Homo sapiens: one gene and its partners. The protein of the gene in region 1 purifies or fractionates together with the protein of each later gene. This does not show direct contact. Each region holds a gene or a part of one and is shown on either strand. Other genes may lie near its edges. The genes, in order: PRM2, ZNF638 and IPO5.

Region 1 (2,997 bases):
ACCTTCTTATCCCTAAAGAGAGGCAGCATAGAAACACCAAGGGCATGGCAATATCACCCATCACCTCCTGTAAGGATCTGAAGATTAAGCCTCCTGAATTTGTTTCTTATTGCCACTGTGACAGATCATCACAAATTTTGTAGCTTTAAACAACATAAATGCATTATCTTACAGGTCTGCAGGTCAGAATTCTGAAAGAAGTCTCATGGGGCTAAAATCAAGGGGTCAGCAGGGCTGTGTTCCTCCTGGATGCACGAGGGGAGGATAACCCATTTCCTTGTCCATCCCAGCTTCTAGAGGCCGCCTGCATCCCTTGGCTTATAGCCTCTCCCTCCATCTTCAAAGCCAGCAGTGTGGTGTCTCCCAGTTTCTCTTCCTGTGACCCTCCTGCCTCCCTATTCTCTCTTCTAAGGACCCTCGTGACTGCACTGGGCCAACCCAGATCATCTGGGATGATCTCTGCATCTTCAAGTCCTTAAATTTGTGTATCTGCCACATTCCCACATTCTCCCTGCCCTCCATGAAAGGGAAACTGGTTTTGCAGTTTCTGTGATTCTGATCCCGGACTTTAATGGGATCATCAAAGTTCAATGAGAAGCCCCGGCAAGGCCGAGCGGGAGGGGAGAAGATGAATATTTTGGAGGCGGAGAGGGGAGCATTCCCTGGGCTAGGGAGGAGGTGGAGAGCCAAGGGTATGACTAAAACCAGGCTGTCTCCGTCTGAATGCTGGCCCGGCCTGGCCTTCTCAGCAGAGTGGCCTTGAGCAACTCAACTTCTTCATGCCTGTTTGCCCCACAGAAAATGAGGATTGTAAGAGTGAGGAATGCAAGGGTGGTGGCTCACACCTGTAATCCCAGCACTCTGGGAGGCCGACATGGGAGGCTCACTGAGGCCAGGAGTGTGAGACCAGCCAGGGCAACATGGTGAAACCCTATCTATCTCCACAAAAAATACAAAAAATTAGCTGGGAGTGGCAGCACACGCCTATAGTCCCAGCTACTCGGGAGGCTGAGGTGGCAGGATCATCTGAGCTGGAGGGGTAGAGGCTGCTATGATCCATGATTGCACAACTGCACTCCAGCCTGGGCGACAGACAGTGCCTCAAAACAAAAAGAGGAGAGAGAGAGAGAGAGAGAGAGAGAGAGAGAATGAGTGAATGTATGGGAAATAAATGAATCAATGCTTGGCACATAGGAGCTATTAGGGAACTGTTTGCTGCTGTTGCCATCTTAACAGTAAGCTGTGTGCACAGAGATCCAAGCACGGAAGTCCCTTCCACATGGTGGCTGTGGCACAGCAGTGAGTTGGCAAGGAAGCTTCCAAATGACAATGTGCGCACCCACCGGCTTGGGGAGATGAGGGCTTGGATTAGGCAATAAAACACCTGCCATCTGTATGGTTCACCTACTGCAAGAGACAGAGGACATGCTTTACAGGCAAGGCAAGGGGGTCTCTCGCCCTTCCAGCCCTGCAGCTTGGGTGCCAGGGCCCTGCTAGTTGTGACCCCTGGCCCTGTGCTGCCCTCACAGAGGAGGCTGGGCAGGGTGGGGACTGGGCGGGGCCGCAGAGTCATAGTGGGCGCCCCCTTTATATACAAGCTCCCGGGGAGCCTTGCAGACCAGACCAACAGTAACACCAAGGGCAGGTGGGCAGGCCTCCGCCCTCCTCCCCTACTCCAGGGCCCACTGCAGCCTCAGCCCAGGAGCCACCAGATCTCCCAACACCATGGTCCGATACCGCGTGAGGAGCCTGAGCGAACGCTCGCACGAGGTGTACAGGCAGCAGTTGCATGGGCAAGAGCAAGGACACCACGGCCAAGAGGAGCAAGGGCTGAGCCCGGAGCACGTCGAGGTCTACGAGAGGACCCATGGCCAGTCTCACTATAGGCGCAGACACTGCTCTCGAAGGAGGCTGCACCGGATCCACAGGCGGCAGCATCGCTCCTGCAGAAGGCGCAAAAGACGCTCCTGCAGGCACCGGAGGAGGCATCGCAGAGGTCTGCCTGCGCCCCCGCCTTGCCCTGCATGTCCCTGACCACCCCAGGCACAGGAGGGAGGCGGGGACCCACCCCACCTGACAAAAGCTCCAGCCCCCTAACCCCCGTCCCCACCCAGAGTCCCTAGGTGACCCCCTCAACCAGAACTTTCTTTCCCAAAAGGCTGCAGAACCAGGAAGAGAACATGCAGAAGGCACTAAGCTTCCTGGGCCCCTCACCCCCAGCTGGAAATTAAGAAAAAGTCGCCCGAAACACCAAGTGAGGCCATAGCAATTCCCCTACATCAAATGCTCAAGCCCCCAGCTGGAAGTTAAGAGAAAGTCACCTGCCCAAGAAACACCGAGTGAGGCCATAGCAACTCCCCTACATCAAATGCTCAAGCCCTGAGTTGCCGCCGAGAAGCCCACAAGATCTGAGTGAAACGAGCAAAAGTCACCTGCCCAATAAAGCTTGACAAGACACTCGCTGGCCTGTCGGGTTTTCTTTGCACGAATCACACAAACCTGGCTTCCCTCACGCCCAGGGCGGGTAGAGGCTTCTCTGCAGCCCTTCCTCAGAGGCAGGTAGGGCGGGAGTTCTGATGCTCTCAGGACACCTAGGAGAGGGTTACTGTGCCTGGGAGGCCACCCTATGATGCTGTCCTGTCTATTGTGCATCCTTCCATGGTGTCAAAGGCCACATTAGTCTGTCTGGATCCCCCTCCAGTGAAGAACCTGATCCTACCTCATGAAAGGAGAAAATGGTTAGAACAGATCGAGTCCTAATTAAGTCACAAAGATGCCAAGGCACCTTGTGGCCATATTTAAATGCCTACTGTGTGCCACAGTTTAAAAACACAACCCATCTTGAGTGTTGGGTGGTTGGAAGTGTAAACGGTGGGGGCAGAGGTGGGGGCACTGCTCAGTGCAGGCCACAGCTTCGAGGTGGGAAACAGGTCTGGCATGCTCCAGCAACAACTTGGTCAGCACAGAGACGGCAAAAGGCAAGGAGTAGATGAATGC
Region 2 (3,655 bases), on another chromosome or scaffold:
AAAGACAATAGCTTTCCAAAAATATTTTTCTCCAAAGTATTATACTAAAGGTATTTAACAGTCACATCTGAACATTAACTATTTTGTAAATATGCTATCTATAATAAAGGAAAAATATATTCTTACTGTTGACGTAACTGTCGACAGCTCTCAATATGAGTAGATGTATTTTGATGCTGAATCCAATCCTATTGTAAAAGGAGAAAAGTGTTGAAATTAGAATATTCCTCATGTTGACTAATGAATTAGGCTTTTAAAAAAGACAAATAATATTTTGTTCAAAAATTAAACAAACGTACTCATAAATAGCATTTGGCTGCTCAGTAAAATTTTCACAAACAAAAATTAAAGGCCTTGAAACAAATGCACTTAATACCATACCTCACTGATCCCATTTGAAAATATTTTAGTACAGAAAACATTTTCAAAATCATACCCGTGGATGCTCATTTTGAAATCAATATATAAACTTGGAGAAAATAAAAGCATGGATCAGAAAAAACTTACTGCAAATATAAAAACAACACACCAGAAAACACCAAAAAATCTATAAGTAAAACGGTATCTGTGAAACAGCATCTTCAAAATACAATATTTCAATGACAAATACCTCTAAAATTCACGCTAACAACATCAACAATCAAAAAATGCCGCCGGGCGCAGTGGCTCACGCCTGTAATCCCAGCACTTTGGGAGGCCAAGGAGGGCGGATCACGAGTTCAGGAGATCGACACTACTGTGAAACCCTGTCTCTACTAAAAATACAAAAAATTAGCCAGGCGTTGTGGCGGGCACCTGTAGCCCCAGCGACTCAGGAGGCTGACGCAGGAGAATGGCGTGAACCCGGGAGGCGGAGCTTGCAGTGAGCCGAGATTGCGCCACTGCACTCCAGCCTGGGCGACAGAGCGAGACTCTGTCTCCAAAAAAATAAAAATAAAAATAAAAATAAAATAAAAATGCTACCTGATAGACCAGTACCATTCCATACAAGGTACTCACTATACTGGCAAATAAGATTAGGAAAAACATGGGGAAAAATGCTACTGATCAAATCTATTTTCAAAATTTAAAAGTAACAACATTTCAAAGATACAATATCCCTTACATATAGAGCTTTGAGCTTTACAATTAACGAAATGCTTCTTTTTTTTTTTTCTTTTCTTTTTTTTTTGAGACAGTTTCACTCTTGCTGCCTAGGCTGGAGTGCAATGAGGCGATCTCGGATCACTGCACTCTCCACCTCCTAGGTTCAAGTGATTCTCCTGCCTCAGCCTCCCTAGTAGCTGGAATTAACAGGCATGTGCCACCAAGCCTGGTGAATTTTTGTATTTTTAATAGAGACAGGGTTTCACCATGTTTGTCAGGCTGGTCTCGAACTCCTGACCTCAGGTGATCCACCTGCCTCGGCCTCCCAAAAGTGTTAGGATTACAGGCGTGAGCCACCATGCCCAGCCCAAAATGCTTTCTTATACATTACTTCATTTACAAATAAATCTGTCCTAAAATTACAATGTGTACCCATAAATAACTCTGGAAGATACATCTGGTTAAAAAAAAAAAAAAGCCAATACAGTTTACAAAGATACAGTTTCCAAGGTGAAACAATTAGTTAAAAGCAATATGTATGTTACTCAATGTTTTACTGTTCCTCCAGCATTTGGAAAGGCAGAAAACTTACTAAATAACTTCGTATTTCAACACTTTGCTTAAGGAAAATGTTATTATTTGTTTCCATTTGAAATACATTTTAGTTTAGGTCATTAGAAGTTTCCACAGTTAAAACCACGGTTGACAATAATTTTGGATTCTGCCTTGGCAAGAACTATCTGAAAGAAGGTACACTGATTTGCAATGCTCAGCATCAATTTAAACTCAGCAACAAGGTATGACAAATCCTAAACTATTTCATTAAGCCATGGAACTGATTGTGGACTACAAAAAAGAAATGTTTGTACATCCTGTTTAATAATACAAATAGAAAGCTAGAAGAAGAGTCTCTAGTAGTACTAAAACCCATATTTTTAATATTAATTGGACACTGTTTACATCAAACAGACACACTGGTGCAGGCAGTGGGTTGGGCATGATTTATTTGAACCATAAAGTGTTTTATCTGAATACGTTGCCAACATTTAATAATCCAGAGATTTTTACCCGCAAGTCCAGATTTCCAGCTTTTCTTGAAAAAATAGGAAGATACAGTAATACAGGATATCATTCTTACAGCAACTATCACCTGAAGATGATGGCTGCCCTATTTAAGATATACTCTTCTCAGTTCAACACACATACACACATTCTTAGGCTTGCTTCACAAATTGACATTACTTGCTTTAAGCTCAGTAAACACACCCATCCCACCCCAACTTCTAGACTCTCTAGTAATAGTTTCCACATTATAGTCCAAAAGCAGCACTGCCTCCCCAGAGAAAAAGTGATAATTACCTACTAGCAGGAGATGCTGCAAGGACTGCACAGAATTAGGCAGGCTCAGAATGAAACTGAAAATATATAACTACTCGTATCAGGGCTCACTCACTATTCTCAACAATTTTTTATTGTCGGTACTTTCTCAAACTGAATTATTTCAGTCATTATGACACAGCTCCTAAACCAAGGGAAGTTTCTCCTTTAAAATCTGAACCCCAATTTAACAAGCAAATACATTTCACGTTCTCAAAGTACATCTTCACAGCTATAGTTTCAAAGACTCGAAGGTGGGGAATATACATATTGTCAGATTTACTCAATAGGAAAAAGTTTACAATTGGTAATTTACATTTATTGGCTTCATATTTATGTCATATATACACACACAGGAACACTTACGAGGCTGCAAAATATATCACAGAAACGAGAGGCAGTGTGTACCATCGAAATCCATCTTCACAAATCCCTATCATTTGGCCACTTAGTAGTGAAAAATTCATTACTTAGATGAGCCCCATTCTGTTGTGCTGTTAAAAGGTGTGTCTGTTTTTTAATGGCAATCTATCTAGGTGAGCTCTAATGATGACTAAATGATTTCCTTTCCTCTCAAATTTTTACTTTTATCCTATTAACCCAGGTTTTTACCATCTTATACTTGAACAATTAAAGAAGCTTCCAAGTGGAAGTCCTACTCCACATCATCTCATTTCTATTTACCCTGCATACTTCAGTCAGATCTCCCTAAAATATACTTCCAACATGTCACTTCACTTATCAACAAACTTATTTAGCTTTCTAATGCCTCTCACCTCAAGTCTAAACTCCTAGGCTAGCTCTTCAAAGCCTTTCGTACTTATTTCTAATACGCTCATCACTCTTTCCCAACTGCCTCCTACCACAATGAAATGTAGTCTTCTCTCCGGACCTCTGCCTCTCTGTATGTTGTTGCCGCCAACCCTCCTCTTCTTTTTTTTTTTTTTTATTTTTTTTATTTTTTTTGAGATGGAGTCTCGCTCTGTCACCCAGGCTGGAGTGCAGCGGCGCGATCTCGGCTCACTGCAACCTTCTGCCTCCTGGGTTCAAGCGATTCTCTGCCTCAGCCTCCTGAGTAGCTGGAATTACAGGTGCGCATGACCACACCCGGCTAATTCTTGTATTTTTAGTAGAGACAGGATTTCACCATGTCAGTAAGGGTGGTCTTGAACTCCTGACCTCAGGTGATCCA
Region 3 (3,655 bases), on another chromosome or scaffold:
CCTATCCTATGTTTGTCAGCTTTCTGTGGCCCACTTAAGGATTTAAGGATAATTAGCAAATGATTACAATTATATATAGTTGCTACTTTCCCCAAATATCTTTTGGTAAACGTTAAGAAAATAAGACTTTTATTTTAAGAGATGGTGTCTCACTCTGTCACCTAGGCTGGAGTGCAGTGGCGTGATCAGGACGCACTGAAACCACAACTTCCCAAGTAGCTGGGACCCAGGTGCACAACACCAAGCCCAGCTAGATTTGATTTTTTTTTTTTTTTTTTTTTTTTTTAAGAGATAAGGTCTGCCTATGTTGCCCAGGCTGGTCTCAAACTCCTGGGCTCAAGCAGTCCTCCTGCCTTGGCCCCACAAAGTTATGGGATTACACACCTGAGCACTGTGCCTGGCAAGACCTGTCTTAATAGATTAGAGAACCACTGATAGATGGTCAGCTTTCTGTAGCAGTGAGAACCCTACATTTCAAATGTGGATAGCACCTTTGCGGGGAAACATCACTTGGCACATCTGCATTCTTTTTTGACACAGGGTCTCACTCTGTTGCCCAGGCTAGAGTGCATGGCACGATCTTAGCTCACTGCAACCTCCACCTCCCAAGTTCAAGCGATTCTTCTGCCTCAGCCTCCTGAGCAGCTGGGATCACAGACATGCGCTACCATGCCCAGCTAATTTTTTGTATTTTTTGTTTGTTTGTTTTTGTTTTTAAGTAGAGACGGGCTTTCACCACGTTGGCCAGGCAGGTCTCGAACTCCTGACCTCAGGTGATCCACCCACATCTGCGTTCCAATATCTTTCTCAACATAATGATAGCCGTAATTAATATTTTCCAGTACATTTTTATGCCTTTACACACGAGAGTGGTAGACAGACACAAACCCAGATCTGTCTGACTCCAAAGCCCGTTTGTCATCATTCCTTTTACGGTATCCTATAGTGGTATCCTTTACAGAAGACAGCTTTTACCCAACAAAGACTTAACTTCCCAGGATGCCAGAGGACAAAGCGGGATTGCTTTTAAGAGGAAGTTATCAAGACCTTATTTTATAAATGAGATTAGATAGGGAAAGGCAATTTAATCTTTATTAAAAACTGAAAAGGCCAGCATAGGAAGAGGTCCTCGGTGGTCTTTTTCAGGGAAATACTTCAGTTGCTTTTATTAGAAACAGATAGTACCTAAGGTTTTGAGGTAGGTACAGCTTAAGGCATGCTAATGGTCATGGGTCCTTCCATAGTCATTTTTGTATTTTGGTTTACATTTGAGCAATAGGCAGCCCTTCACTGCTGCTGGACTCATTCCTGCCACTATTACAGGTGACAGAGGAGACAGGAGGTATGTCTTTTCTATTTTTATACATGCTTTATATTTAACACAAGCTCTTGGGTATCTTAGATAAACAGAAGTTGCCTAGCACTCCTTTTAGTGCATTGAACCCTTTAACATTTAAGCAAAATAATAAACAGTCTTTTGAGGTTCCTTAACAATGAAACGTGTTCGAGTGGCAGCAGCGGAATCCATGCCTCTTCTCCTGGAGTGTGCAAGAGTCCGTGGTCCTGAGTATCTCACACAGATGTGGCATTTTATGTGTGATGCTCTAATTAAGGCCATTGGTACAGAACCAGATTCAGACGTCCTCTCAGAAATAATGCATTCTTTTGCAAAGGTGAATATTTTTCTCTTAAAAAATATGTATAAGGTTGTATGTTCATTTATTAGTCTTGCTAAAAGTAAAAAAAAAAAATTTGAGACAGGGTATTGCTCTGTCACCCAGGCTGGAGTGCAGTGGCGCAATCGCAGCTCACTGCAACCTCCACCTCCTGGGTTCAAGCAATTCTCATGCCTCATCCTTCCAAGTAGTTGGGATTATAGGCATGCACCACCACACCTGGCTACTTTTTGTATTTTTAGTAGATGTTCCTCAGGTCTCAAACTCCTGGCCTCAGGTGATCCACCTCGGCCTCCCAGAGTGCTGGGATTGCAGATGTAAGGCAGCTAAATAAATTTTTATATGCTATAGTGTATGATTTGTTAAAAAATAAAAATGTTAAATTTTTTGTTTTAATATTTTGGTATTATTATGTTTGTTTTAAAGAGGGTAAATTTGCCTTGGAAGGGCAGTATAGGTAGAGGGAATGATATGGGCAGCAGCATGGAAGCATGCATTCTTTGGAAAAAGAGAAGAAATTCTGAATACTCTAGTATTTTAGTCTTGCACTTAATAATCCAACTATAGAAGCTTGGGTATCATCTCCAGTTTCTGTTCTTTACACTTTCCTCAATTCTTCTCTTTTTTTTTTTTTTCATTGCCCCATCTCTTTTTCATGCCATTGAAATAGCCTCACTTGGGCTACTCCAGATGTCTCCTTTCTTTTCCTCTCAGTTCATTCTCCTTTCCTCAAGCACTGCCTTCCTCTTCATTGAGTCACTTCCTTTCTCATACAGTGTCACTCCCATTTTGCACAACTCTAGTTTGCTCCAATCTTGATTGAAGATTTACAGTTTCTCAGCATCTTTATATGTCCTTATTTACACTCCTGTAATTCAGAATTGCTTCTGATTTTCCAAAGACAGCATGCTTCCATACCTTTGCCTATATTTTATTTCTTCTACCTCTAATGCCCTTCCTTCAGTGTTCTTGTATGTTGTGTGTACGGAGTATGGATATAGCAATTGTGTTCCTTAGGAGCTGGTTGTGTGTGTGTGTGTGTGTGTGTGTGTGTTTTCCATCTTTGAATCCTCAGTACCAAGCATGATGCCTGGCACCTAGGTATGCTCAGTAGTGTTCAAAAGAAAATATTTTTTTCTAACTCCAATCTCTAAAATGCTGTCATTCTAACAAATACAAGCTAAGCATATGTAAATAATCTTCCAGGATACTGAACTGTGTTCATTTTTCCATATGATTCTTAGTGGAGTTTAACTTTGGACTCCAAACACCCCAAATCTTATGGATTGCTTTCTTTCCTCAACCTCATTAGTGCATTGAAGTAATGGGAGATGGATGCCTTAATAATGAACACTTTGAAGAACTGGGAGGTATATTGAAAGCAAAGCTTGAAGAACATTTTAAAAATCAAGAATTACGACAAGGTAAGTTTTCCATGCTTTTATTTCTGAATATAATCCTTGACCATCTTGGCAATCATTTAAAACATTTATTTGGGTGTGTTTTAGTTAAAAGACAAGATGAAGACTATGATGAACAGGTCGAAGAGTCACTACAAGATGAGGTAAGTTATTCCCTTTGGAACTTACTTACGTGACCACTTGCATCTGAAAGACTTGTAAATGCCTCAATTTCTGATTTATGTGACTTGTCATTCTGATGTAATTATCAGTCTTTAGCAGAGGAGTCAGATATATTTCCTCTCTTAATTTATGAATAAGTAATTTGAAATTAAACTGATATGTCTTTCGGTGCTATGTGCATTTTGTTGTAATACCTCACTCAACAAAACACCTTGAGGTTTACCTAGTTCATTTACATACTGCTCACAACAACCATTTGTATTTTGTGGTGCTTTCACTATATTAAAGATGAGTAACCTAAAATTCCAGTGTTAAATGATTGCCTAGAGTCACACTGTTGACGGTCTGGGGCCTTTTTCACCATGTTACTTAGTTCTCTCATCAAACCACCTAGGA

The links.
Region 2: the proteins of PRM2 (region 1) and ZNF638 purify together in Homo sapiens (affinity purification with mass spectrometry; one large-scale study listed by BioGRID and IntAct). This does not show direct contact.
Region 3: the proteins of PRM2 (region 1) and IPO5 purify together in Homo sapiens (affinity purification with mass spectrometry; one large-scale study listed by BioGRID and IntAct). This does not show direct contact.

What each region holds. Positions count from the first base shown.
Region 1 is NC_000016.10:11,275,099-11,278,095, reverse strand, and holds PRM2 (protamine-2), read left to right. Parts: upstream 1-1,615; 5' UTR 1,616-1,725; coding exon 1,726-1,996; coding exon of another isoform or gene 1,997-2,034; exon of another isoform or gene 2,035-2,043; intron 2,044-2,114; coding exon of another isoform or gene 2,115-2,158; coding exon 2,159-2,196; coding exon of another isoform or gene 2,197-2,266; 3' UTR 2,267-2,457; downstream 2,458-2,997.
Region 2 is NC_000002.12:71,352,252-71,355,906, reverse strand, and holds part of ZNF638 (zinc finger protein 638), read right to left. Parts: intron 189-3,655; coding exon 127-188; intron 1-126.
Region 3 is NC_000013.11:98,012,542-98,016,196, forward strand, and holds part of IPO5 (importin-5), read left to right. Parts: intron 1-1,500; coding exon 1,501-1,673; intron 1,674-2,988; coding exon 2,989-3,100; intron 3,101-3,184; coding exon 3,185-3,240; intron 3,241-3,655. UniProt on the Homo sapiens protein: Functions in nuclear protein import as nuclear transport receptor. Serves as receptor for nuclear localization signals (NLS) in cargo substrates.